5 separate regions of the Homo sapiens genome follow, and regions 1, 3, 4 and 5 are each linked to region 2. The links come from fine-mapping of genetic effects on gene expression. A gene starts in region 2. Each other region holds a variant in brackets. All regions are shown on one strand. Distances are between the middles of the regions. Region 1 has its middle 7.6 kb from the start of MIR4689. Region 2 holds the start of KCNAB2 (potassium voltage-gated channel subfamily A regulatory beta subunit 2). Region 3 overlaps KCNAB2 (potassium voltage-gated channel subfamily A regulatory beta subunit 2). Region 4 overlaps NPHP4 (nephrocystin 4). Region 5 overlaps KCNAB2 (potassium voltage-gated channel subfamily A regulatory beta subunit 2).

Evidence for each region. PIP is the estimated chance that this variant, and not a neighbour inherited with it, causes the effect. A credible set is the group of variants that fine-mapping cannot tell apart.
Region 1: its variant is the best candidate, but not a certain one, in a credible set for the expression of KCNAB2 in skeletal muscle (GTEx, PIP 0.81).
Region 3: its variant is the best candidate, but not a certain one, in a credible set for the expression of KCNAB2 in whole blood (TOPMed, PIP 0.66).
Region 4: its variant is the best candidate, but not a certain one, in a credible set for the expression of KCNAB2 in whole blood (TOPMed, PIP 0.51).
Region 5: its variant is the best candidate, but not a certain one, in a credible set for the expression of KCNAB2 in whole blood (INTERVAL, PIP 0.87).

The regions. Positions count from the first base shown.
Region 1 is chr1:5,852,563-5,857,660 of GRCh38, reverse strand. No RefSeq gene overlaps it. Among named protein-coding and RNA genes, the nearest start is that of MIR4689, 7.6 kb to the left of the region's middle. RefSeq lists enhancers at 1-146, 3,770-4,614. The variant C/T (reference allele first, on the strand shown) is at 3,106.
Region 2 is chr1:6,043,880-6,048,977 of GRCh38, reverse strand. KCNAB2 (potassium voltage-gated channel subfamily A regulatory beta subunit 2) reads right to left here and starts at 3,090. Exons shown (of 16, transcript NM_001199862.2): 1 at 2,795-3,090.
Region 3 is chr1:6,098,548-6,103,645 of GRCh38, reverse strand. KCNAB2 (potassium voltage-gated channel subfamily A regulatory beta subunit 2) reads right to left here. Exons shown (of 16, transcript NM_001199862.2): 16 at 2,466-5,098. The coding sequence ends at 5,072. It overlaps CHD5 (chromodomain helicase DNA binding protein 5), which reads left to right. Exons shown (of 42, transcript NM_015557.3): 42 at 1-1,859. Among named protein-coding and RNA genes, the nearest start is that of KCNAB2, 55 kb to the right of the region's middle. RefSeq lists enhancers at 516-1,015, 977-1,146, 1,016-1,517. The variant T/C (reference allele first, on the strand shown) is at 2,429.
Region 4 is chr1:5,876,296-5,881,393 of GRCh38, reverse strand. It overlaps NPHP4 (nephrocystin 4), which reads left to right. Exons shown (of 30, transcript NM_015102.5): 19 at 1,155-1,280; 20 at 4,096-4,301. Among named protein-coding and RNA genes, the nearest start is that of MIR4689, 16 kb to the right of the region's middle. RefSeq lists an enhancer at 1,082-1,586. The variant G/T (reference allele first, on the strand shown) is at 3,134.
Region 5 is chr1:6,091,477-6,096,574 of GRCh38, reverse strand. It overlaps KCNAB2 (potassium voltage-gated channel subfamily A regulatory beta subunit 2), which reads right to left. Exons shown (of 16, transcript NM_001199862.2): 11 at 2,090-2,175; 12 at 1,132-1,252; 13 at 951-1,045. Among named protein-coding and RNA genes, the nearest start is that of KCNAB2, 48 kb to the right of the region's middle. The variant C/T (reference allele first, on the strand shown) is at 3,110.

The DNA.
Region 1 (5,098 bases), 190 kb after region 2:
AAATGGAGTCAAATGCAAGCCAGATGAGCTGCTTTGTATTTCTCATGTTTGATAATGATTTAATGCTATGTTTGTCTGTATTTAGAAATAAGACACTTTTTAAAATTGTTGCCTCAGGTTCTAAGAGGGTGGGGAAACAGCCATTATTGCTTCCCTGATGACCGCTTTTTCTCCTGTGGACGGAGGCGCTGCCGCTCTCACCCCAGCAACCTCGGGTAGCACTTACCGGGAGGTGCGCTGAGGCCTTGACAGAGAAAGAGACAGAGGGCTCAGGAGCAGCTGGTGGCGTGCCCACGGGAGGTATTCAGGTGGGTCGCTGTCTCGCACGGCCCAAGCACAGTGGGTCTCTCTGGCCCTGTGCAGGATGCCACCCTACAGACGGGAAATGAAGAATGTAGACCCTTCCTGCCTGGAGGACGCTGGCGCTCCACCTGCCGCACTCCGCTGGTGATGCCACGTGGGCCCCACTGGCTCTCCTGACCCCAAGCCAAAACCACGCCTGAGCGGGTCCACAGGAGGCTGTGCAGCGCCCGGGAGCTTCTCTGCAGGTTGGGCAGATCCACCTCGGGCCAGGCCCCTGGGTTTCAACACTACCCCTCACCTCTCCGAGGGGGTCCTGGGAAACCCCTTGCTGGTGGGAGAATGGATGACTGAGGAACAGTCACCCCAACTTCAGGGGTTGAATACTGTCCCTGCAAAACTCACATACACTCAGAACCTCAGAATCCGGCTGTTTGGGAAGAGGGTCTTTGCAGATGAAACGAGGGCTTGAGATGAAGTCATGTTGATTGGGGTGACCCTAAGCCCAGGGAGAGTGTCCGTATGGGACAGAAAGGGACACGTAGAGATGGTTCCGTGGCGACAGAGGCAGAGGCTAGAGAGAGCCACAAACCAGGGATTACCAGAGCCACCGAAGCTGGAGACACCTGGGACAGATTCTCCCTCCGACCCTCCAGAGGGAACCTGCCCTGCCCTCACCTTGATCTCAGCCTTCTGGCTCCCAGGGCTGTGGGAGAATAACTTCCTGCTGCTGTGAGTCACCAACTTTGCAGCAGTTGTTTACGGCAGCCTCAGGAAGCGAACATAGGAGTCGTGGGACCTGCAGCTCCCTGGAGGTCCTAAATAGTCACATAATTAGCAAATGAAGGTCCCTAGTGCTGGGGAGAGAAGGTCTGGTGTAAGTCTAAGGAGTGACCCCATCGACAGGGTGGCCCTTGGTGCGTGTAGAGAAGCCCCTTGGGTGGCCGTCCTTGGCCACGAAGAAGCCGCGTCATCCTGGCTGGTCAGCCGTCCTGAATTGAGTAGGGACTCCAGGTTCTCAAGGTAAACTTTATCACAAGAATTCAACCTTGAAATAGCCACGCGCCAGTGTGAGTTTCTCCTGGAGGCAGAACCTCTAGGTGGGGGCTGTACCCACATTTAAGGGAAAGAAGCAACAGCCCCTGTGTGTGTGACTCAACACGGACCCAGGTTCTGAGACAGCTAGTAGGGGCTTGAGGGAAGGAGTGTGGTCTCCAAGGCATGTGGGGCCCTGGTACCAGGGTCAGTGCTGTCCACACTACCCTCCTGGGCCACCCCGGGCTTCACTTGCCCTCACGCCGCCCTCTCATCCAGTGCTCATGGCAGCTGCTGCGACTGTCAGGAAACACAGACCTGATCCTGTCGCCTCTTTTGCGTAAACCTTTCAGAGGGTAGGACGCAGGCAAGGATCCTCTCTGGGGCCTGCAGGCCCATCCTCTCCTGGCTCCATCCCACCCTCTCTAACCACTCGCCCTGCTCAGGGCGCAGGGCTGGGCTGTTTCCTGCTTCTGAAGCCTCTCTGTGCCTTGGTCTCCTCCATGAAGGTGCATTGAGCTGACCAGGTAAGAGCTGGGTGCAGCAGGTCCCCTGTGGTGCGCTGCAGGACTGTCCCTGATCATCTGCTGCCCCTCCTGCCCAACGCCATCTGACTGGCAGTGTCGCTATGGGAGGGGTGTCCACCTGCGGCTTGCGGGTGTGGCCGATGGGATGTGGACAGAAGTGACCCGGCCTTGCCTCAGCAGGCCTTTTCCCTCTGCCCATAGGGTCCTGTCTCTGCAGGGAGCTGAGAATGGGGGATCTTTAATTAGCATTCTCTTCTCCAGCCAAGCCAGCCTTCCTTCCTGGGGGGACCCTGTCCTCCCTCTGTTGGGCCATCAGCCTGCGGGAGGCTCCATGTGGCTGGGCCCTGCATGGAGGTGCCCCGATTCTCTGGGCTCCGGGGTGGGTGGCGTCCTCTCTCAGTGCTCTCCCTCTGCCTCTGGAACAAGAGCAAGTGCCAGGGTCAGGGTGCCGCGTGGGCAGCTCCCCGTGCAGCGAGTCCTGGCCCGTGTCTGTGGGGAGTTCGGGACAGGGGAGGGGTCAGCCTTGTGCAGTGGGCTATGAAATTTGGGATTTTCGAGGGTAGCTGTCAGGCTTCTGTTCACATTGCTGACCCCCCACAGTGGTCCCCTAAATGATTCATCATTTAAAATGTCCACCTTAATTCTGCTTGCTGGGAGCTCACATGAACTGGTCCTCTGTTTGCACACTGGATTTGTTGGACTTTCACTGGACCAATGCTATTGGGCGCCTTTTGTTTGCAAGGGACAGACACCCAGCTCAAACCAGCATAAGCCAGAAGGCAGCTGTGATGGTTTCTCATACCTTCTGGGGAAACTCCGTCTTCAGGCATGGCTGGATCCAGTTGCTCAGATTCTGTTGCCAGGAGCCCATGCCCCTCCATGGTTTTACTCTGCCTTTTCGGTGTCAGCTCTGCTCTCAGACAGGCTCTCCCCTCAGTGCAAGGACAGTGCTAGCTTCAAACTCCTAGTTATGTTTTTCTGGAGTGAAGGGCCCAGGCTTTACTCTGTGCCTCTCTCTGGCTAAGTTATATGTCCAGCCCTGAACCTGTGGCTCTGGCTTTCCAGCCCCGGAGCAGGAGGGTTGGTTGGAGTGGTTAGAGAGCCTGGGGGAGGCTGCTCCCTGGGGGCTGTTAGGGAAGAAGGGGGTTGGGGGAATGGGGGAATGCTGGGCAGACCACACCCACCAAGGTCTGAAGTGAGCTTGGAAGGGGTGGCGTGTGCTACAGGGTGGCTGAGGTCTCCT[C/T]GTGGACTCACCTCTCTGCCTCCACCCCCAGAAGAAGAGCAGATGCCATGTCTGTCATTGGTTCCTTTACTATCCCTGCCCCTGAGGGGCCACTGCTGTCATGGAGTGAGATGCAGGCAGAACAAAGACAGCCTGTGGACACTTACAGGCTCGGAGATCCCAGCCTCGCCACACAGCCATCGCCTGCACACTGGCCGGATGCTGCTGGCCATGTCAGGAGCTGGGTGATGTGGGGCCCTGTGCACACGGGCCCTGAGGAAGCACCAGACTCCCCTGTGCTCTCCTCTGTGGGGAAAGGGGGTGATATGGTCTGGCTGTGTCCCTACCCAAATCTCATCTTGAATTGTAACTCCCACAATTCCTGCATGTCATGGGAGGAACCTGGTGGGAGGTGATTGAATTATGGGGGTGGGTCTTCCCTGCACTGTTCTCGTGATAAGGAATGAGTCTCACGAGATCTTATGGTTTAAAAATGGGAGTTTCCCTGCACAAGCTTTCTCTCTTTGCCTGCTGCCATCCATGTAAGACGTGACTTGCTCCTCCTTGCCTTCCATCCTACTTGTGAGGCCTCCCCAGCCACGTGGAACTGTAAATCCATTAAATCTCTTCTTCCTTTTGTAAATTGCCCAGTCTTGGGTATGTCTTTATCAGTAGCGTGAAAATGGACTAATACAGGGGGATCTCCCATCCTTTCCCCTTTCAGTCAGGAGTCTCTGAAACCCGTGAAATCACGTGCAGAATTCTGTGTGCAGAGGAATTTTCATGGAGGGAGGATCCGTAGCTTTCCCCAGACTCTCAAGGTGTAGGGCCTGCAAAAGGGTGAGATTTCGAGAGGAGACATCTCTGCTCAGAGCTGGGCCCTCGTGCAGCCTAAGCAAGTGCAGTTTCAGGAAGATGCTCCTGGTTGCTGGACAGGCTGGAGAGCTGGCCATGTGGGCTCATCTGGGTCATTCTTGATCCTGCTGGAGATTTGCACACCATGCTCAGCAAAAATACACCTTGGTGATCAGCCTCCTGGTGGTCTGCACCTGCTGCTGTCTTTGGAGGTTTTGCCATGGCTCCTGACTGTCTCCTGCCATCCCCCCACCCCATGGCAGACACAGCACCCTGTGAACACACCAGTCCAGGCAGGACCTCCAGTGGCTCCCACATCATTCAGCTGGAGTCCATGGGATGGCCCCAAGCCCGAGCCACTGCTCCCACCTCCCCTCTGCTGACTCCTCCCCTGGTCTGTGGCTCTGGCCACACATTTCCTTGCTTGTCAAATGTGTCCAGCAGGCTGCACCTCGGGGCATTCACATGCCTTTCCCTCTGCCTGGAATGCTCTTCTCCTAGGTAGCCACGTGGCTCACTCCCCGGCCTCAGTGGGGAAGGAGCTTTGATTGCCCATTCATCTGAGAGGCCTCCCCTGCATCCCACTCCCCAAATCACCCTCCCTGGGACTCCCGTTCTCCACAGCACCTCTCAGCTCCTTCATGTCTGTCCGCCTGCCACACATGGAGTTTGTCTTTGTTCCCTGCCAGAGGCTCTCCAAGAATATTCCTGGAAGAATTGAATGTTGCCAATTCAGCTGCCCCCCTGCCTGGAGTCCTCTGCTGCCTGACAGTCCACGAATCCCCTCCCGTCGGCCTTGGCTGCCACCAGCCTCCCCCACCAGCCCATGCAGGCCACTCCTAGCCAGAGCGAGGGCCTTCTCTGCACTCTGCCTGGAATCGCCCACGTGGCTGGCTCTTCCTTCTGTGGTGGTGCCTCCTAGAGAGGGCTGCCGGGCACCTGGCTAGGGGAGACATTTCCTGGGATAAGTCCTGAATGTAGGTGTGGTGTTCTATGGAGTCTCCCATCATGGTGGGGTCTGTGTTACCCCTGGGGCTAGGATGACTAGGATGCGGCGGGGGTGGCATGGTGCCCTGCCTGGGCTCGGCCCACTCTGCCTGCTGCTCTGCTCTTGAGCTCTCAGGACCCTGAGGGCACCATGGGGATAAGCCCACAAGAA
Region 2 (5,098 bases):
TTCCAGGAGAATCGCTCTGGAGGGCAGAGAGGCCCGGACTCCAGGAGAGGTTCACCTTAGGAAATGAGGCCCTTGGCACCCACAGACAGCAGCACCAGCTTCCCTTCCCTGCCTACTGGCCGGCCACTCCCTTCCCTCCATGCGCGTGGCAGGCAGCTGCTTCTGAGGTGGCCATGTGGCTAGCTGCCAGTCCGGTGTGGGGCAAATGGGGGCCAACCCTCACTTCCCTGAGGTCTGTGTTTAGAAAGAAGGCCAGCTGGGCAGGCTGTAGCCCCAGGGCTCTTTCTGAAAGGCAGGACCAGCCTCAGACACGCAAGTTCCCTGCCTGGCCCGACCAGGCTGAGATCAATAGCCATTAGCTTTCAAGACATTACTCACAAAAAGCAATCCGGGTCTGGTTTGGCTCTAGAAATATAGCCAAGGCCCCGGGGCTGGAGGACGGGGTGGCTGAGTGCCCAGCTTCTGGACAGGGGCAGCTCTGCTTGTCACCTGCTCATGGTGTGGCCCAGGCAGGCACCTTGACCGCTCCCGGCCTCAGCCTCCACATCTGTGAGGTAGGCTGGGCAGAGGCCTGTTGTACCAGGCTGCTGTGGGCTGCATGAGATGAGGCTTTGGACAACTGGGTGGGAGTTGGTGACGCAGCCAGAAGACAGTCTGTTGGGGGGCGTGGGATAAGACACCAATTATGATAAATGCTGTGGAAAGAAAAATCCACCACCAGGGGCCAGCAGGCAGGGCGGGAAGGAACTTGTGACCACAGGTTTGAGTGAGAGGAGTGAGCCACACAGACACCAAATCTCCCTAGAAAATGCTTAAGGGAAGAGAACACAGATGTGAATAATCGCCCCCTTCACAACAAGATGGTGGAAGGCTGAGTTTGGGGATGTGAGTGGGAGAGGGGAGAGAGGGCAGGACAGAATGGGTTTTGTGGCCAGGATTTAGAGGGCGTCCCTCCCTGTGGGGGCCCGCTTGCAATCTTTCCTTAGAGCTCATGTTGCAGCCCTGGGAGCAGACCTGCAGGTGGGAGCCCTGCGGCACGGAGGGAGCCCAGAGCCTCTTGCTACGAGCTTGTCCCCATGGTGCCAGGGCAGGGCTTGGGCCAGGGAACTTGCGGGCACAGAAATGGCAGCCTTTGGCATGGGGTGGTGGGGTGAGGAGCAGGGCTGGTGCCATGAGGAGCCCATGGCCGCTGGACTCCCCTGAAGGTTGGGTCCAGGAGGGCAAGGACTCTTCTGCCTGCTGCCACTGCCCCCTGACCAGTGCCCACGGGAGTGTCCCGTGCACAGAGGAGGGGCTCAGATATTTGTAGAACAGTAACCAAGGCCCAGGCTCCAAAAGGCCAACCAGGGCTATACCTGGGCATTTCCTGGCAGTGCCAGGCAGCTGTTGGTGGGGGCGGGGCTGGCTTCCTACCTCAGACCCAGCAGCTCTTTGCAGGTCACCCTCTCTTGTGTGGGGGGGACTCCCATGCCAGGACTCTGTACAGCGGGGGCTCCCTGTGGTCCTGAAGGCTCATGACTCTGGGAGGGCTGCCCCAGGGGAAGAAGGATAGGTACAGGCAGAAGGCAAAGAGGCTCTGCCCGTTACCAGCGGTGCCTGGGGACAGAGGACACCTCTGGACTCCCTCACACTGGGGCTCTATTCTGGGCTTTTGCCGAGACTCTAGCAGCGTCAGGTCCTTGGACGAAGGGCCCCCCGGTAAGACACTGCAGGGAGGAGAGAGTGGCCCCACTGCCGGGCTCCTGCCTCAGGGTCCCCACTTCTCCTGTGCTCAAGAGCACAGTGACCCCTGACTTCCAATTCAAAATATCCCAAATCCCGGCCGCTTTCCAGAGTGAGGGTCTCTGAGCCCTGACACTCCCTCACCACCCTGGTACCAAGAAAAACGAGCCCCTCCTCAATAGCCATTGCTAATTACGTGGAACCCACAAGTTCTTTCCTGGGCTGGGCCTGCCTGGTGCAAATCTATTCCTGTAGATCAGGGGCCCAGGGGAATTCACGTGAATTAACACCGTGACATGGAAAAATGCAAGGAAGATGTTAACCTCATTAAGTCAGTAGGAATCACTACCTCACCCCAGACTCCTCTACCTGGAATTTCTGAATTGTTCTGTTTACTGAAAGCCAACAAAGCATACAACCTGAGATTGAGAAGGAACCCTGAGCATCTCTTCTGAATGGTGACACCTGTCCAGAGAGCAGAGAGCCCAGCCAGAGTTCTCCAAAGCGGAAATGGAAGGGGAGCTGCTACCATTCCGGGGTGCGGCTCTACAAGACACGGCATTGCTTCAGTGCAAACACAGAATGATTTTCGCTCAAGGACAATCAGCAAACTGAGGCCCAAACAAGCAGCCCCTGGCTCCCTCAGCACGTGCTTCCTGCACAGACATTTCAGACAAGACCAAACCTCCCTGACAGCGCTCTGGGCAAAACTGGAAAATGCTGAATCTTAATCAATGGTGAACACAGCGAGGTACGAGCTAGACGCCCGTGTCTCCGGCAGATGGGAAAACAGTCAGCCTTGGGCAGGTCTGGGCTGTGAGCAGACTCAAGCGAGAGGTGCTGCCCGGCTGAAACCTGCCGCCCACCACCCCATCCATCACGGTCATTCCAAGTTTACCTCAGGCTGGCTCTTTTTTAAGGTCTTCTGCTTTGCAAAAACACGGAGGGTCTAATTCCGGATCAGACAAAACCACCCCAAAATATGGTCTCCTCTGTTATTTTTCATTCCCGCGGATGCGTGCCCCCAAGCGGCATCTCCACTAGGAAGGTAGCGGCTGAAGGGAGGACTCACCTGCCTTCGTGGGGGCGTCTGCTCGTTAAAAAGGCCACAGTCTGGTTTATTAGGGATCACCAGACACTCTAAGGATCTGGCACAGCGGCTTTTTCATTAGGGAGTGTCACTGCAGGACGTCAGAAGCAATTGGTGAATGAGATGAGTCCCACCAGAGTCGAGTTTTGAGGCAGCGAGTCCATTAGTTCTATTAGGGCGTTTTCATCTCAGTGAAAGAGGCTGAATTATTCACGAGTGCCTCTTCCCCTAAAAGCTCGGGAAGTGCAGTTCCGTGCTGCAACCTGGCAAGGCTGACTCCCGGTGCGTGGGGTTGGGGTGCAGCCCAAGGTGAGGGGGAGGTCCTGCCCGTCCCTCAGGCCTACCCTTGCTGCCTCCACCATCCCCGCGTGCCAGAAACACAAACCTTTGGACCCACAGGTCGAAAGGGGCAGGCCTTGCTCTTTGGTATCTGAGTGCGGGACACAGAGCCTGTGGCTTCCGCATACCACTCAACTCTGAACTGTGTCTGCAGCAGGGGAGCTGGGGGCCCCGTCGTATGGGGCCACCACCCACAGCCAAGGGGGTCTGGAGAGGCCTCTGCTCAGCACACGCGCATGCTCCTCCTGTCCTCTGGGGATACACCCGAGATGGGTATATCTGATACTACCGGTAGCTATAAATGGCAGGAAGGCCCCAGAACCTGCTATTTGGACTCCACACTGCCACTCACTCCAGGCAGGGACACAGGAGCCCTTCTCCACGGCACATGTCCTGACCTGGGGTTTGGGAAATGCTTTGAGACTAGGCCAAACAAGGCTGAGCTCTGGGATGAGGCTAAGTGCTGAGCCCCAACCCCAGGGTCATGACCCCCAGGGTCACTGCGTGTCACAGGATGCCAGCAAAGTCCCAGCGTGACATCATCTTCCGGCTGAGAAAGCGCGCCAGTGAATGTGGGATTTTGAATGGAGGCAGAACCGTCCCCCCATGATGAATGAGCAAACAGTGGTAGCTGCCATGGGGGAAGGTGGGGGACAGGAAATCAGTGCCCCAGTCGCAGTGTGGAAGGTAAATGAAGTGGGAGGCTGGGAGAGCACGTAGAGTCTGGAGGTGCCTGGCTGCGGGTGACTAGCTGCGAAGGCCTTGGCAATTGAAATGGTTTGTCCCCAAAGGCCCAAGCCCACTCTGTCAGATCCCCACATGTCGCCCTGGTCGGGGGGCCTGCGCCTCACTACTGGGTGGTAGCTGCAGCCTAACATGCTCCGAATGAGGCCCTCTCCTTCCCTGGGTCCACTGCTCCTCTCTGTCCCTTTCTGTCTCAGCACCTGCCCATCAGTGGCCAAGCCCTGTGGACGTGGCTTCTGACGTCCTTTTTTCAGGCCCTGCACCCCTTCATTCTCTCTCTGTGCAGTTCCTGGAGCTCAGCCGTCCTGCACCTTTCCTGGGCACTGTCTGGTCTCCTTGCATTAGCCTCTCTCTTCCCTGTCTTACTCCCTGCTACCAGGCTTCCTTCCTAGAGCAGATCTCTGACCCCTGCCCTGCTCAAACACCATAGATGGCTCCCCAGTGCCCTCTGAGTGCATCTGTGCCCCATCGCTAGGCATTCGAGGCCCCCCACCAACATCCACCTCTACAGCCAGCCTCTCTTTATTCTCCATCATGTCCCTGATGGCCCAGGCTGGGTAACTGTCACTTCCTGTTCTCTGTGCACACCTCTGAGCTGTGGCTCAGGCTGTTGTATCTACTGGAATATGCTTCCCAGCCTCTGCGTTGAATCCTGCCCAGCCTTCAAGGACCAGATCCAAGCCCCTGCTGCCTTCTCCGTGAAGTCTTCTTGGCTCTCAGCTGGCTGTGGCCCCTCCTTCCTTGGACCCCAAATGCTCTTTGGGCTTCTCCTGTGACGTGCTCTGCCTTCTGGAGATCATCAGGGCTATTTGAGACCTGGGGTACATGGAAGTATTGCTCCCAATCCTTCACCCCTCTCTGTACCCATGCCCTTTGCCATGTGACTTTATAGCTCCTCCCACTGGTGGGGGCAATATATTTCCAGCCCCTTGACTGTGGGCTGGTTCCTGAGACTTACTTTGGCCAAAAGCACGTGAGCAGAGGTGACAGCGCTCTGACCCCAACCATAGGCCGTAAGAGACCCTGCATGTTTCTGCTTTTCCTCTGGTACTTTTGCCATGGGAAGGACATGCCTGGGGTAGGCCCCAGTTAAGCATGGGAAGATGGAGGACATGGGGATCCAACTTGCAGCTTGGAGACAAACCCAGCCAAGCCAGCTTAGACGAGCTGCCTGGTCAACCCGCAGACACGGGAGCAAGGAAG
Region 3 (5,098 bases), 55 kb before region 2:
ATCCACATGCGTGTTGTGTGCTCTGCGGTGCCTCCTGGCAAAGGGTCCTGGCTCGGGTCAGAAGCTCACTCCCGTGCCCTCGTCCCCAAACAAGCAGTGGCAAGCACTGGGGTTGGCCCTCGTTGGGAGCAGTGCCCACCTTCCTTGGCCCACAGCAGATAGGTCCCGAGCAGCAGGACTGGAGGCCTGTGGCGGTCAGGGCAGGGGTCTGTGTCTCCACCCCAAGGGCTGATGGTCCCTCCCCTGTGCGCCTTCCTCTCAGGCAGGCTTGCTCTGTCCCTTCCTCTCTGCTTCCCTCCCAGGCCTCGCCAGGGCTCCCTTCTCCTCTGCCTGGTTAGACTCGGGCACCCAGGAAAGCCTGGCCAGGGCTCCTTTGGGCCTGGGCCCCCTGCACTGCCTGGTCCAGAAGGGGTGGTGCTGTCCGTGGCCAGCACCCCGGGGCCCGGGAGGGGTGGGCTACTAGAGTCAGAGCGGGTTTGGGGCTGACCAGTTTGGGAGAGGAGAAAAGATCTGAGAATGTCCTTCTTGGTTTGTCAGTCATCTCTGCCAAAAGTGGTGATGGTGGTGTCCGTATGTTTGGCGTCTTTGGGCTGGGTTTGGTTTTTGCTGCTGGTAGAATCAGGGTCCTCGGGCATGAACGCGAGCCCAAAGTGCCAGTCTGCGATTGGAAATTTCCAGCCACTTTAAGCCAGTGCTGAGTAGGGCTTCTGCAGAGCCATGTTTGAGCCAAGGTCTTGGAAGGCATTGCCCCATGGGCTCAGGTGACTCGGGGTGGAGTGAGCACGTCTGCAGGGCCCTCTCATACACGCCTGAGGCAGAAGCAGCGTCCCCCGTGAAAGCCACCTTCCGAAGCTCCTGCGTTTTTTGCAAACTTGGCTTCCCCCAGGGGCAGGCTGGACTTTCCCTGCCCCCTATGATTGAAGTCCTCCTGCTTTTGGGGGCTGCCTTCCCAGAGTCCCCCGGGTGCTCCCCTGCCGAGGTCAGGAGCTGACCAAGCCTTGGCCCGGTGACACCTGCAGCCCTCACTCCTGTCATCCCAGGACACTTGAGGCCCAAGGAGGTGGAGTGGAGAGTGGGCTCGGGTACATGGGAGCCAGAAGCCAGATGGACTTGGTCAAGTGTCGGTCACTTGGAGCCTCCAGTGTGCGTCAGGGTCTGTGGGCAGGGGACAGGGCGTGGGTGGGGGCCGAGGCTGGCACGCCCCTCTGCCCTCACCGTCTTGGTGACCTGGCCTCGGCCCCTCCCCCAAGTCTCTTCTGTGCAAGGCCCGCCTCGGCCTCGGCAGCTGGTTCCTGTCCTGTTTTCTGTGTCTGAAAGTTTACAGGTTGTGGTGCATCAGCCCAAACTCACTGGCGTTGTGTTTTTTTTTTCTTTAATTTTCAGATTTTTTTTTTAAACAAAGTATTTTTTTAGGTGCGATAACCCAGAAAGGGCCCGTTGGGTGTGTGTGTGTGTCCTGAACTCCTCAAGCAGCGATTGGAGCCCAAGCACCCCTGGAGAGGAAGGGAGGGTCCCCACTGGCCCGTGGGGTCTGAGTTCAGGGGTGTGGAGGGAGCAGACTCCACCGGCCCAGGCCCAGCTAAGAGGGGGCCGACCCCTTTCCCCAGGCACAGCCCCAGGCTGGCAAAGGGAGGGCCCTGGGCTGGGTGCAAGGCGCGCCAGGAGTCCCAGCCAGGGTGGCCCCGGCGGGGGCGGGTCCAGCTTTGGAAGCCAGGCTCCCCTGTGAGCCGTGGCTTGTCTGGTCTTCGCCCACGGGAGGCTGGACAGAGGCTGTAGCCAACACAATCACCTTTACTTTGTACTCTGTGTGTATGTTTTGGTTTTCTGTGTTTTAATAAATCCTTTGGGAAAGGATTTAATCAGAGGCTTTTTCTTTTTAAGATTCAAGATTTAGAATGGGGGTGGGGGCTGGGGCCAGGGAGGAGTGGTGGGGGGTGGGGGCGTGTCCGGAAGCCTTCTCTTGCCTGGGATGGTCATTTCACGGGTGCAGGGGCTCACTGGGAAGGAGGGGAGCCCGAAACAGGGGTGTGCTGGGGTGAGGCCCCTCTCACCTGTACCCCAAACACATACCATGAGAGCTTCCCCAGGCCTGGACCTCTGTCCTTATGAGAACAGCAGCCAGCCAGGTCCCCAGAGGGACAGCAGCCTCCCAGCAAGCAGCTTTGGGCCCTCAGAGTTGGTGAAAGAGAATGTGTGTGTTGGGGGCGGCAGGGGAGGCACGCACCCTCCCTTGGCTGAATCGCTTGGGAGAGATGGGGGACAGGTCTTCTGACCACCCTGTCCCCATTCTCTGTCCCCGCTCTCTCTCCACGGGCCCTTTCCAACCCACCTGCCCTTGGCTGCAGGCTCCGGTTTGGGGGATGCCCCAGGCCCTGCTGCTGGCAGCCTTTTCCTCCCCTCCCGTGTCACCCTGGCCCAGCCCTGACCC[T/C]GAGGAAATGAGAGGAGCAAAAAGTCACAGAGACCGATGGGTTTGGGCTTTATTTATTTTGTCATTCCATAAATACGGTGGCTGTGTCGCGGTCTGAGTCTCGTTTGGAAGCTCGAGGCATAGGACAGTCTCTGCCTGGGTAGGGAATGCAGTTAGCTGAGGAACCACGGTAGGTTTAAAAAAAAAGACTCGGGGAGAGAAAAAGCACATTATTTACATGACTGGACAAGGACAGAAGGTGGGAGGAAGCCCCTGTCACTCCTTGGGACCTGGGATCTGAGCACAAAGCTGAGTGGGAAACAGTGGGGGCTCCGAAGCGTCCAGCAGGGCCAGCGCCCTCCTTTCTAGACCCCGACTGCCCTTGGTCTTCTGCCCTTTCTTGGATGGTCCTACCCAATACCTCCTCCCGAGAGGGGGGACCTGGCCCTAGGAGGCAGAGCCCCCTCACATCCTCCCTGTAGATGGGTGTGGAGCAAGCAGGACATCCAGGAACCAGGTCGTGGAAAGAGCTGCGCCAGAGGCTGACTGCATCCTGACACTGGGGCCTGGCCTCTCTGTGTTTGGCAAACCCGCAGCCTTTGGGGGCTCAGCTGCCCCAGGTGTGCCTCGCATTAAGCAGCAGTGCCCACCCTGGGCACCACCTCGCGCTGGTCCCTCTTCCAACAGTGGGTGGGGCTGGGTGGCAGTGGGGATGGGGCCAGCCACCCTCCCTGATGGCGAGGGTGGGCCACCTGCCCTCTGGCACCATTGGCCACTGCAGGACCCTGTCCGGGAAGGAAGCAGGCGACCCCCACCTGGGCCCAGGGCCATAGGCTGGGACCTCCGTTGGGAAGGGACTTCCCCACCCCACACTCACAGGGCTGCTTCTGGTGAAGCAGGCAGCAGGACTGAGTGGAGACCCCCGGGACTTGGTCTATGAGGAGGGGCAAGGGTTCTAGGCGCCAGGGGCAGCATGAAGGGGGGTCGGTAATAGCAGAAGCTGATCCCCCTCCTCCCCTCGCCCCAGCCTCTCCCCGCTGGCCTTTCTGACTTTCACAGTTTCCCAGGCCTTGGCCCGGCCAGGACTGGACAGCAGGCTCCCGCAGGACGGCAGGGTGGAGCCTTCTGGAATAGTGGCTCCTCCAGGGGCAAAGCGGGAACAGAGGTGCCTGCACTGAGGGTGCGCCCTGGGGGCAGGAGACACAGGCTTCCCTATGGAGCTAGCTGGCGAGGGGTGGGGGTGGCTTCAGTGGAGCCCTGCCCCGCGTGGTCTGCAAAGCCTGGGTACTGCTTGGGACACAGGCCTGGGCCTGTAGGTGGCACCCCGCACCTGCAGACTTACTGGCATCCCTTGCCCTCCGGCCCAAGCTGCACGGGGGCGTCACTCTGGCCTGTCCTGCCCTCTCTCCCCTCTGCCCAGCCTGTCCCAGGTGTCAGGCAGTGGGAGGGGCTAACCAGCCCTGCCCGTCTTTCCAGGGAGAGGTTCCCTGAGGTCTTTTCCTACATTGTGGGGGTGCTGTGGGGGTGCAGCCCCCAAGTCATGGGCACAGAAAACCCCAAAGACCCTTCCTTACTGAAAGGGTCCAAGCATGCGCTCCACAAAACCCAAGCCCACCAGCTCGGTGCAGAGCAGCGGCCTGGGCTGGCGGGCGGCTTTAGAGAAAGTCTACAGGGGCCGAGAGGAGTGCATCCTTGTGCACAGGGCCGGCCCCTGCTGCCACTTGCCGTGGTGTGGCCAGCAGCCACCGTGCAGCTAGGAGCACATGACCACAGGGCCTTCCGGGGCCAGGACAGAGGGGTGGCCAGACAGAGGGGCCTGCCCCACTGGGACCCCTCCCAAGCGCTCCGGGCCTCACTGGCATGAGGCTCATCATTGGTGTGTAGGAGGAAGACGGTGGGAGGCTGAGCTAGAAATCACACCGCTACGCTTTTTGTGGCTCCCAAACTGCAGAGTCAATCCCCCTGGGGTCCCTGCCCCTGCCAGCAAGGGTGGGGGTGGGTGGGGGTCAAGGGCCAGCTCGAGCTTGGTAGGCATGGCCCCTGCCGGGACCCAGTGGGGCAGGTTGGAGCAGAAAAGGATGGGAGAGGAATCTGTGGTCAGGCCCCAGATTCCTGGAGCCCTTGGAAAGTGGGAGGTGGAGGAAGACCCCCAGTGGGGAGGCCCTGCCCCAGCAACCAAGGCCCTGGCAGAAGGGGCCCCTCGATGGGCCAGACCCCTTTCCCCTCTCCCCCTACACCAAGTGGGGATTCTCAGCAGAGGAGAGGCTGGCCCTGCCCGCCCCAAGGACCCAACCAGGCCTTGGCCTGGCCTTGACTTTGGGAACCTTGGAAATCTTTGGGCCTTGACTTTGGGAATCTTGGCTGTGGCTGGGAGAAAGCTGGGTGGTCTTGGAGGATGAGCAGAGGTGACAGGCTTGGGTGGGACCGTTTGAACATCCTTCCTAACCAGTGCCTTCCCCGGCACAGACTGGACTTCGACATTGTCCGGCGAAGCAGTGGGTGGTGTCTGGCAGCGACTTGGGAGATCATTTCCCGATGACATCACAGTGTGGTGTTTTCTCTTGGATGCAAACCACACTCTTCACTTGGCTTCAAAACAGCTTAAGCGAGCGAACAGAGACTAGGAGGGAACGGAAACTGTCCGAGCAGGCGGGCGGGGGCGGCTTAGGATCTGTAGTCCTTTTTGCTGTA
Region 4 (5,098 bases), 170 kb after region 2:
ACGGGCACTCCCTTTCCAGCCTCAGCTCAGACCCATTCTAGAGAGACACCTCCGTCAGCCAGCTCTGGTTTTGTCACCAGGAGAACCTGGGTTGGACGGAGGATATGGCTCACCTCCACAGGTGCCTGCACGTGGGCGTGCTCCCAGCACTGGGCTCGTCCTTGAAAACAGCAGCTTCTGACGGGCAAGAGGGGAAGGAACCTGGCGCAGCAGGTGGATCTGCTGCAGCCAAGGAGGGACCTGGCCAGTGTGGAAGTCCCTCCCTCCCCTAGGGCTGAGGGTAGGCAGGAGTGAAGGGATGCAGAGAGGCAGGAAGCCCAGGGGAAGGGGTTCCCGTTTTTAACAGCTCCCGGGAAAATGGTGAGGACATCCCAGGCCCGAGGGCACTCAACACTGCCTCGTCGGAATTAAGGAAATTGATGGCACAAGCATTTTGTGCGTACCCTGGGTGGTTCATTTTGGGACACAGCTTCGTTGGCGGTGCTCTGCCTCGCCCCTTGGGGAAGTAAAGGCCACACCGAGGTTGTGGGTCCCATCCTTGCAGGAGAGTGTGCCGTGGGCAAGCACGGCTTCCCCCAGGACACTCAGGTTTGCAAGTTGCAAGTTTGTAGGGTGCCACACCCACCGGCCGTGAGACACGCTTGTCCCGAGGCCACACCACTTGCTTGCCAAAGCCTTCTGTTATGAACACAACTCTGGTGAAGGCTCCAGTTTATGGGGGCTCTTTCACCCTGGGTGTGTGTGGAGCCAGACATTTGCACGTGTAAATGCACACAGGCCTATCCTTGATCAATGTGGCCATCGAGAGGCCGAGGTTAGAGTTTGTGAGGCAGCCCGCCTTGCGACCCAGAGATCCAGAAGTAAGAATCCATGTGCAGCGAACTGTGAGTGCCACACGCTTTCATTCGTCACCAGGAAACGGAGGCTGCCACTGACACGGCAGGAGAATGAAGACCTAGCTGAAAGTTCGCAGCAGAACGAGCTCCCACCTGTCTCTCAATTGCAAAACATTCAAAACAGAGGCGGTGGGGCCTTAGCGTGTCAGGGTGTAGATAGGCCATTTGAAAGCCACAGCCGCTTATGTGGTGGGTTGATCTGTTTCATCAGATTCTCATTTGGGGTTCATGTCTTATGTTGGGATGTTTTTCATGTAGGTCACCCGTGTGAACAGAAAGTGAGAGGTTGTAGCACATTGCCACCGTCCAGATCTCGGGTCATCTCAAACGATGGAGCCAGCCGCTTCTCTGGAGGCAGCCTCCTCACGACTGGAAGCTCAAGGCGTGAGTTTACACTGTTGGGCCCATGTGTGGGTGGGTCGTGAGTGGTGGGTGAGAGGTGGAAGACTGCGTGTGTGTGTGTGTGCATGCGTGTGTGCATGTGTGTGTGTGTGCACCATTCGTGGTGCTGTCAGTGCCCCTCTGCGTCTAGGACGGGACTGTGCTGTCCATGTGCAGGTGGGTCATGAATGGCGTGTGAGAGGTGGAAGGCTGCATGTGTGCACGTGTGCGTGTCTGTGTGTGCATGTGTGTGTGCGTGTCTGTGTGCGTGTCTGTGTGTGTTTGCGTGTGTGTGTGTGTTTGCGTGTGTGTGTGTGTTTGCGTGTGTGTGTGTGTGTGCGCACCATTCGTGGTGCTGTTAATGCCCATCTGCATCTAGGGCAGGACTGTGCTGTCCATATGCAGCTCGGTGCCCTGGCTAGATGCCCCTGTGGACCCACAGGCCCCACCGAGCCACCACATTGATCACACCCTGGTGCTCTAGGCTGGGCTCTGCAGGCGACTGTGCTGTTTGGAGAAGTGGGAACCCTGCCAGTGGCATTTGTGTCTGGTTGGCTGCTCATCTGCAAGGGAAGGAGAAATGGAGAGAAGGTCAGGAGGAACATAGACTGATTTTCAAAACAAGTTGAAGTACCCTATGTTGTGAACAGAAGAAAGAAGCCAATTATGGAGCTTGGGAAAGAAAGACCTGGTTTGGAGAGGAAGACCTGGGTTTGGTGAAAATGTGTTTCACAGCAGGGAGGCTCTGAAGTTTTTCTATCCCCTTAAAATGTAAGGCCTCACAGACCTGAGTATAAAGTACTTGTCATTTGAATTACAAGTGGGAAGTGCTCTTTAAGGAGCATTTTCCCCAGAGGTTGCAGATCATCTGTGTGAATTCACAGCTGCCGTGCGCTTTTGTGTGTTGCTGGGCCTTGGAGCTGTGGCTTGTTAGAGGTGGGAGGGGCAGTTAGAGGTGGGAGGGGCCGTTGGGTTCCCTCCTGCAAGGCTTCCAGGATCCCACAAGGCCCCTGAAACTCTGGGTAAACTTGTATGTTCTCCCTGGGAGCAGACATGAGGGGCTCAAAGGGATTCATGATCCAGGCAGATAGAGTCTGTTGTTCTGGGCCAGCTTCCTCATTGTAATTTTGAAGAAACTGAGACGAAGAGAGGTCAGGTGACTTGGCCAGTGCCGTGGCTAAGGGGTGAACTTGGCTTAGAATCTGGATTCCCTGCCCTGGGGTCAGTGCCCTTCATCCTCAGCTGGTCCCACAGACCACCTAGAGTACGGTGGAGAGCCAGCTCCTTAGAGAGAAGTCCCTGAGCTCCAGGAGCCAGGCTGAGGTTATTGATAAAACCCTGCCTCCAGGCGCAGCAGGTCAGGAGCTCAGCTGTCAGGGAGCAGGAACCCAGAAGGCCTTGCTGAGACAATCAGAGGCCCTGAGGTCAGTGATCCTCCAGACCCTGTTTTGCTCAGGACCAGGACAGGAGGTGTCCCTTAAAAGCACATGTCTCACCCATGAGGCAAGGCTCTGCAATTAGCAAGTTGCACGAAATTTTAAGAAGGTTCTCAGTGCTTCGTGCCTTACCCCAAGTGCAGTTTCACGGTCACTCTGTAACTTTCTTTCTGGTTTCATTGGGACCACGAGAGGTATTTGTTGGGGTGATGCAATCTGAAAACTTGAGCTCATGATAAACCCCAACTTGCGCAGGCCCCAGGTCCCTCCACTCACAGCCGTGGCTGCAGGTAGCTCAGACCAGGCCTGTGCCGGAGACTTGTAAGAGCCACGCGGGGCATCTGCAGAGCAGTTTGCCGGCGTTAAAATTGGATGGTGGTGAGGGACCTGACAGTGGCACTGTTTCCTTGTGAGAAGGAG[G/T]CGGGGGTCACGTTGCTGTCCACTGTGTGGAGGCTTCTGCAGGGGGTGCCCATGCCCCATACAAGTGGAACCAGGCTGGGAGAGCTCGGGCTGGCATTGGTTTCCTGTGGGAAGTTTCTGCTGGTGCCAGAGAGTGAGGAAGGACCCAGGCCCTAAGCTGGTAAGCTGGGGCGCCTCTCAGCTGCCCTGCCTGTGCCGGGCTGAGCGATTTTCTGGGAGCCTCATGTGTCAGCCTTTGGCGTGGCCTGGTCACCCAGCACAGCCCCGCCCGACACCCCAAGCCCCTGCTCTGTGTCGGAAGGAAGGGCCTGGCCCATCCAGTAGTGGCTGAGCCTTTGCCTGCCAGTGCTTGACCCTGTTCAGCTTCTGTTGGTTTGCTAAATGAGTCATTGTGTGTCCCTGGTTTGAGTAGGGCCACCCCAGAGGAGGCGGGCTGTCCTGGGGGCCAGGCAGTCCAGGGTCAGCTGGGATGGAGTTGAGAGCAGGAGCTTGGGGGCCAGGCCTGCTCTGAGCTTCATCGCCTGCCCCCCACTCACTGAAGGCCTCCTGCCAAGGGGACAACCCCTTACCCCCATTCCTGATCCGAGGGGCTGAGGCCAGCAGCCCTGGGTGAAGGCATTAGTGGGCCCTTTAAGATCCCGAGAGCATGGGCTTCTAGAACGTGGCCTTCTTCCCTAGAAAACCCCCTGGTGGTGTGTTGACAGCGTTGGATCTAAGGGCCAGAGTCAGAATTGCTTTTAATTTGAAGGCTGAGGAAAGGAGGGGATGCTGTGGAAACCAGGGTATAAAGTTATCATCTTTATCTGGATCTCAGAACTCTGCAGATTGGAGCTGCAAAAAGCATGAGCCGCACTCTTGAGCTCCCTCCCTATATAGGTGGTCCTGGGAGGCCTGCCCTGGTGTCTGCTCCTGGAAGGCAGACACTGCACGTCTACCTGACTCGCGCTCTGACCCTTTCGCAGGAAAACACGTGGTGCAAGCACAGAAGCTGGCGGACGTGGACAGTGAGCTGGCTGCCATGCTACTGACCCATGCCCGGCAGGGCAAGGGGCCCCAGGACGTCAGCCGCGAGTCGGATGCCACCCGCAGGCGTAAGCTGGAGCGGATGAGGTCTGTGCGCCTGCAGGAGGCCGGGGGAGACTTGGGCCGGCGCGGGACGAGCGTGTTGGTAAGGGTTTGTTCAGCTGTCACTGTCCTGGGATCTCCATGCAGACTGAGTCACTGTGCACATCCTTTCCCTGCCTCCCACATGATTCTCTCTTACCTTCCTCCCAAATCCTGGGGACAGAATATAAGAAAATCGGACTTTTTCAGCCACCGGGGGAAATCTTTAAGTGAGAATTATCTGGAGAGCTTTTAATAAAAGCCAGTTCTTGGGCGTCACCCCTGGAGATTCTGATACTGATTGGTGTGGGCAGGACCCCTGGAGCCTGGGTTTGAAGAAAGCTTTGCAGGTGATTCTGAGGCTCTCCCAGGTCTGGGGACCAGAGCTGTGAACAACTGACATATCCTGGGTTGTCAATGTAATCATTCTGGCTAGAAAAATTCCCCTTTTTGGCTGAAAATCTAAATAGAACTTTTAATATTTTGCTACTAAGAAATGGGAGGTGAGAATGGTTGTACCTCCTGGGTTCATAGAAGTCGGGAACCACAGGGGCCTTGAGAAAGATCTCCTGAGATTCCCCCTTGCATGTAGGTAGGCCGGGGTCTGAACAGAGGTGGCCCTTTTCCTGACAGTAAACTCAGCAGGGCTGCCACTCAGCCTCCCTGCCAGCAAGGCGTTGGTGCTCAAAGGTGGATGCAGACGCCTCGGTCCCTCCCTAGGCTCAGTTCAGTCTGATGGGGCGAGGAAGAGGCATGGTGAGAAGACACGGGGTGAGGAGGCCTGGCCTGATCCCACAGGACTGGTGGGCTCAGTGGTCAGGGAGGAGGGAGGGACTAGAGGGAGGCCAGGGCAGGGCCAGG
Region 5 (5,098 bases), 48 kb before region 2:
GTGCAGGGGGCCGATGGGCTCATTCCTTCTGGACCCTTCTCCCTCATAGGGGCTCTTCTCATCTTGAAGCCAGGGCAGTGCCCCTGCCCCAGGCCTCTCAAGTAGGGGAGAGTGGGCAGTGGGCCGGGCACGGGCTGGTGGATGAGCGGGGCCTGTCCAGGCTCTGAAGTGCAAAGACTGTGGTGCTGGCCCAACCCCAAGTCAGGACAAGGAGGCGAGGTGCTGGCCTTCCTTCTCTTAGGAAACTTGGCAGCCTGGGGTCTCGGCTGCCACCCGTGGCCCAGAAGAACCTCCTGGCCCTAGGGGAGTGCTCTCTCCCCTGGCCATCCCCCCCAGAGGATTGCAGGGCCTCCTGGAGGGGGGCCCTGACCTTGCCATGGGATGGGAGGAGTCGGGGGCCAGGCCACGTTGCCCTGGAACCCAGGGCTGTGGGCCCCAGTGCTGAGACTGCTGGCTGGGCAGACTTTCTTGGCCTGCTCCTTGTTCTCCAGATCCTGCAGTCTGGGGACCCTCCTGAGTCCCCACTCAGAGGTTGTGTGGTGGGGAGGGGCGCCTCTCCCAGGGTCACCTCCATGTGGCTTTGCAGCCCCCATCTCGGAGCCCAGGCCCAGGGGTCTCAGAGTTCTGAATGCTGGGCTGTGGTGGGGGGCAGAGGTGGGGGATGTGGTAGGGGGTAGAGATGGGGGGATGTGGTGGGGGCAGGGGGGGGGATGTGAAAGGGCCTCTCCACTTGGGCCTGTGCCACAGGCTGGGCAGCCCCTCTACACATGGGATCAGGCCAGGAGGGGCTCCATGTTCTCACGCCAAGGAGCCCGCCCCCAGCAGACCGAGGTGGGAACAGCTGCAGCTCCCGGAACCCCTGCCCAGCACCAAAGCAGTCGGCCCAAAGGTCCCACCCGTCCAAAATGCCTATCCCCTGCCCGTCCCTCCCCACCAGGCTGTTCCTTCACCTTCAAGGAGGCTCTTGAGTAGGGTGGGATGCCACTGTCGTACTTGCCAGAAACAATGCCACAGGCCAGAGGGGACCAGGTCATGGCGCCCACTCCTGAAGAGGAAAAGCAGGTGGAGTCAAGCCCTGGGCCCGAGAGCAGGGGTGGGGTGGGGCGGGGCGAGGGGCCCGAGGGTGCCCACCTATCTTGTGGAACAGCTCCGGCAGCTGCACCTCCACTTTCTCACGCTGGAACATGTGGTACTCAGCCTGCTCGCAGATGGGCGGGGTCAGGTTGAACTGCCGGGCCACGGAGTAGGCCTCCTGTGAAGGCAGAAAGGGACCCCGAGGGCCCTTGCCTGTGAGCAGGCGGGAGGCTGCCGGGGCAGCCATGGAGAGGGCACCAAGGTGTCCCCGGAGCAGGCTGGCCCAGCAGCTGCAGCCCGGGCTCCCCACTGCTCACACTCATAGCTTCCCTGGGAGCCAGGCAGGCCCTGGTGAGCTGGGAAAAGGAGGTGGGTGGTGGGACCCCCAGGCCGGAGGGTCCAGTTATGAGCAGCCCAGGCTCTGAACCACACAGCCTGGATGTTAATCTTGGCCCAAGCTGTGTGACCTTGGCATGTTACTGAACCTCTCTGTGCCACAGTGTCCACATCTGAAAAATGGGCTGCCTGCGGCACTCACCTGGTAAAGGCACCGGTGAGGATTGCATGTGAGAGGGTCCCTGTGGAACCCTTGACCCTAACAGCACCGGGCACGTCTCAGGAGCCCAGTGGAAACAGCTGACGGTGTTGTCACCCCAGAGTGCTTGCTGAGCTCCAGGGCATCTGCTAAGAGCTTCACACTGGCTCTCTCAGGGACTCCTTAGAATGGCCCCATGGGGGCTCACCTAGCAGATGTGTTCTACAGGTGGGGAAACAAGCTCAGAGACGTTAAGCCATTTGTCCAGGGCCACACAGCGCTGGGATCCATGCAGAATCCCCGTCTGCAAGGCCTACAGACATAACCACCACACTCCACCATCCTGTCCCTCCCTTAGCACCCAGGCATCGGTGCAGTTGGGACCAAAGGCACAGACCCCGCCAGAGCTTTGGGGTCTCCATACGCAGCCGGTGCCGGGAGTCTGTGCCTGGACACACACATGCTGCGCGGCCACCGTACCATGATCTCCATGGAGCTCCAGCGTGACGTGCCCCAGTACATGGCCATCCCCTGGTTGATGACGTGGGTCATGGCGCGGACGGTCTCTGTCGTGAGAGAAAGGGAAACCGCAGGTGGGGGGCAGCCAGGGCTCAGGGCCAGCCTCGGGACATTCTGCAAATACAGGCAGGACGCTGGGAGGAGGGACAGGGGCTGCGAAGATGTCTTGCAAGCAGTGTACTTCCTGGCTCTGAAGTTGGGTGTGGGAGGGGTTTTTTGGGATGAAAGAGAAAAGTGAACCACAATCCTAGAAGTTGGTCGTGAAAACAATTTCCCCGACTGGTTACAGGCCTATGGAAATGTTGAAAAATGGGTTATGGATGGACCGTGATGTTTCTATGGTAGATTAGAGGGGACAATCAAAGAATGTGGCTCTGGACTCTAGAACTGGAGGTTCTCTGGTCTGGGGAAGATTCGAGGGCCCCGATCACTCAGGAAGGACCAGGTGAATGCATGAACGTTACAGTCAGATTGGCGGCAGGAGGGACATGTGTTTTTGCGTTTCTGGTCTCCTACTTCGGGCTATTCCAAAGTCTAATTGGAACAGAGAGTGGGCTGGATAAGGAGATGTGGCAGGACCTGGGGCGCCATATGGTCCCGGAGAATAGGGCTTCGGGGCTGAGCTCATGTTTCCTGTCATGTCCAGGAGACTGAGAAGTGGGCGTGGAAAGCCTTGTAAGACCATGGCCCAGGTTCTCAAACCAGCCCAGCACCAGGCCAGAGTCCCAACCCGCCTGTCCCCTGGCAAGGGGTGGTCCCAGGGCCACAGGGGTCTGGGTGCTCCTCCTGTGAGGGGCCAGGGCCTGGAGTAGGACAGTTTTGAGGCTCCATGAGCCCTGGGAACAACCTGAATCGTGGACGGCGGAGACTCCTAAGGCCCTGAGGATGAAATCGCGGAGACTTCACGCTGGCCTTTTAAAGAAGAGAGGAGGGACCCTCGCCCCAGCGACACAGTGGATTCTTCCCAATATTCAAACATGG[C/T]TTTGAGACACAGCAATCTGCTGGTTATAGCTCCCTCTCAGCCTCATGGGGATATTGTGATTTTAAAAACAGAACTTGGCGTCGAAATTTCAAATTTCAGAAGCCTCTGAGCTTTGCAGGGCGAGGGACTATGGCGCTAGGCTTCTCACGGGTCGGATACAGTGCTTGCAAGTTCGACCGCCAAAGGCAGTGTGGGAGTGAGTGGGAGTGCAAGTGTTTCTAAAGACAGCAACAACGTTGACCCTGGAAAAGCCCTGGCTCTCCCTCAGTGCCTGCTTGTCCTTTGCCCATGCTGCGTGGAAGCTGAGGTCCTGAAAATGCTGGGAGTGGGGCTGATGGGAAGGAAGGAAGGATGGAAGATGCTGGGTTTGTTCTGCAGGCTCCCCCCTGGAATGGCAACGAGGCCACAAAGTGGCAGTGCTGGCTTCCCGTCCACTTCTGTTTTGGGGGTCGCTCCCTGAGTGCCCCTTTACTGAGGTCCACCCTGAGCAGAACCTGGGGCCTCCTAAAGGCTAGAGCTGAGGCCACTGGGGTTTCTGGAGTGGTGGTCTCGGCAGACTCACCCAGGACCCCTGGCAAACCACCCTTGGCTTCCACGCTTGCAGGCCCAGCCCTGCTCTCTGCTTACTTCCAAGGTCAGAGGTTGTAGCTCCTGGGAATCCTCTCTGTCCCCTCCTGGGGGTGGAGATCTGGGAGGGAGTCTGAACTCTCTGGGCCACCTCCCTGGGCCACCTGCTTTAACTGCCAACTCCGATAGACCCTCAGGAAGTGCCTGGTTGGGAAAGTTTGAGGAGAACCTAGAGGGTCCCAGGAGAATCTCTGACTACATCCTGCCCAGGTCCGGGCTCCTGGCCTGCCCGGCCTTGTGGTTTTTTAGAAACACTCTCGGGGCACCTGTGAGCATGCAGCATCAGTTCCCGATTCTTCTCAGCCAAGGCTTAGGTCCACATGCCAGACAGAGGGAAGCCAAGGCCCCCAAGGCCAGCCCCGTTCCCTCACTCTCCCTCCCCGGCAGCTGTCTCAGGTCTCCAAGGTCCCAGCCAGTGAAACCGCATGCTGCCCTGCGGCGCCCCTTCCATGCAGTGATGGAGAGACGGGGCTGACGGGGCAGGAGCCTCTGGCTGTCCTGAGGTGGGGAGTCCTAGGCAAAGGCCCCTGGGCTCCCTGGAGGATCTGGGCAGAAGCAGGCTGGACAGGGAGCCCACATGAGGGAGCACCCTGCACTTGTGCCCAAGTGTGATATCAGTGGCCCCAGACCCAGGGACAATTAGGGACAACTGTCCTTCACCTCAATATTTAATGGGGTTGAACGGAAGTAGGAAGACTGAATCCTTCTAGCTGCTGCCAAAACTCACAGCATCTCCTGCCGCATCACAAATAATACATGGGGGTTCAGGTGGCAGCACCAGTTGGCAGACAGGGGCCCAGGCCCAGGGAGATCGACACCTGCCCTTGGGGTGGGGTCCTGGGGCCGTTAGCTGTGGGGAGGGCAGAGAGACTGTGCGTGGCCAGAGGCCACCCCCTGGTTTCAGAAGGCTGCCGGCTCCTGTGGTTATTCTTTCAGGAGGAAAATGATTCCACGTTGATGGAGCGCTTTGGCAACCTGGTGAGAGGGGACACGCAGCCAGCATGCCGTCCGAGGAGCAGCGTGCTGTGGACGGGGCAGCGTGACAAGCCAGGTGATCTCTGCCTCCAGGAGAGACAGGAGCTTAGCAAACATAAACCATGGAGGAGCTAAGACTCGGTGGGGGGCCGCGTGTTTTGGGGTCCCTGATGGCTTTGCTCCTTGTGGAAACCTGGTCTTCCCCAACCCTTCCCATGGCACCATCCAGGGTCAAGGCTCCAGGTGGGGATCACAGCATCCTCAGATCAAGAGGACCCCCGGCCGCCGCGGAGCTCAGCAGTGCAAGCCCAGGGGTGGGGGCCATGCACGGGAGGAAGGAGGAACGAGGGGATGGGGGGCTGGGGGCGAGGGGCTCCAACACCACT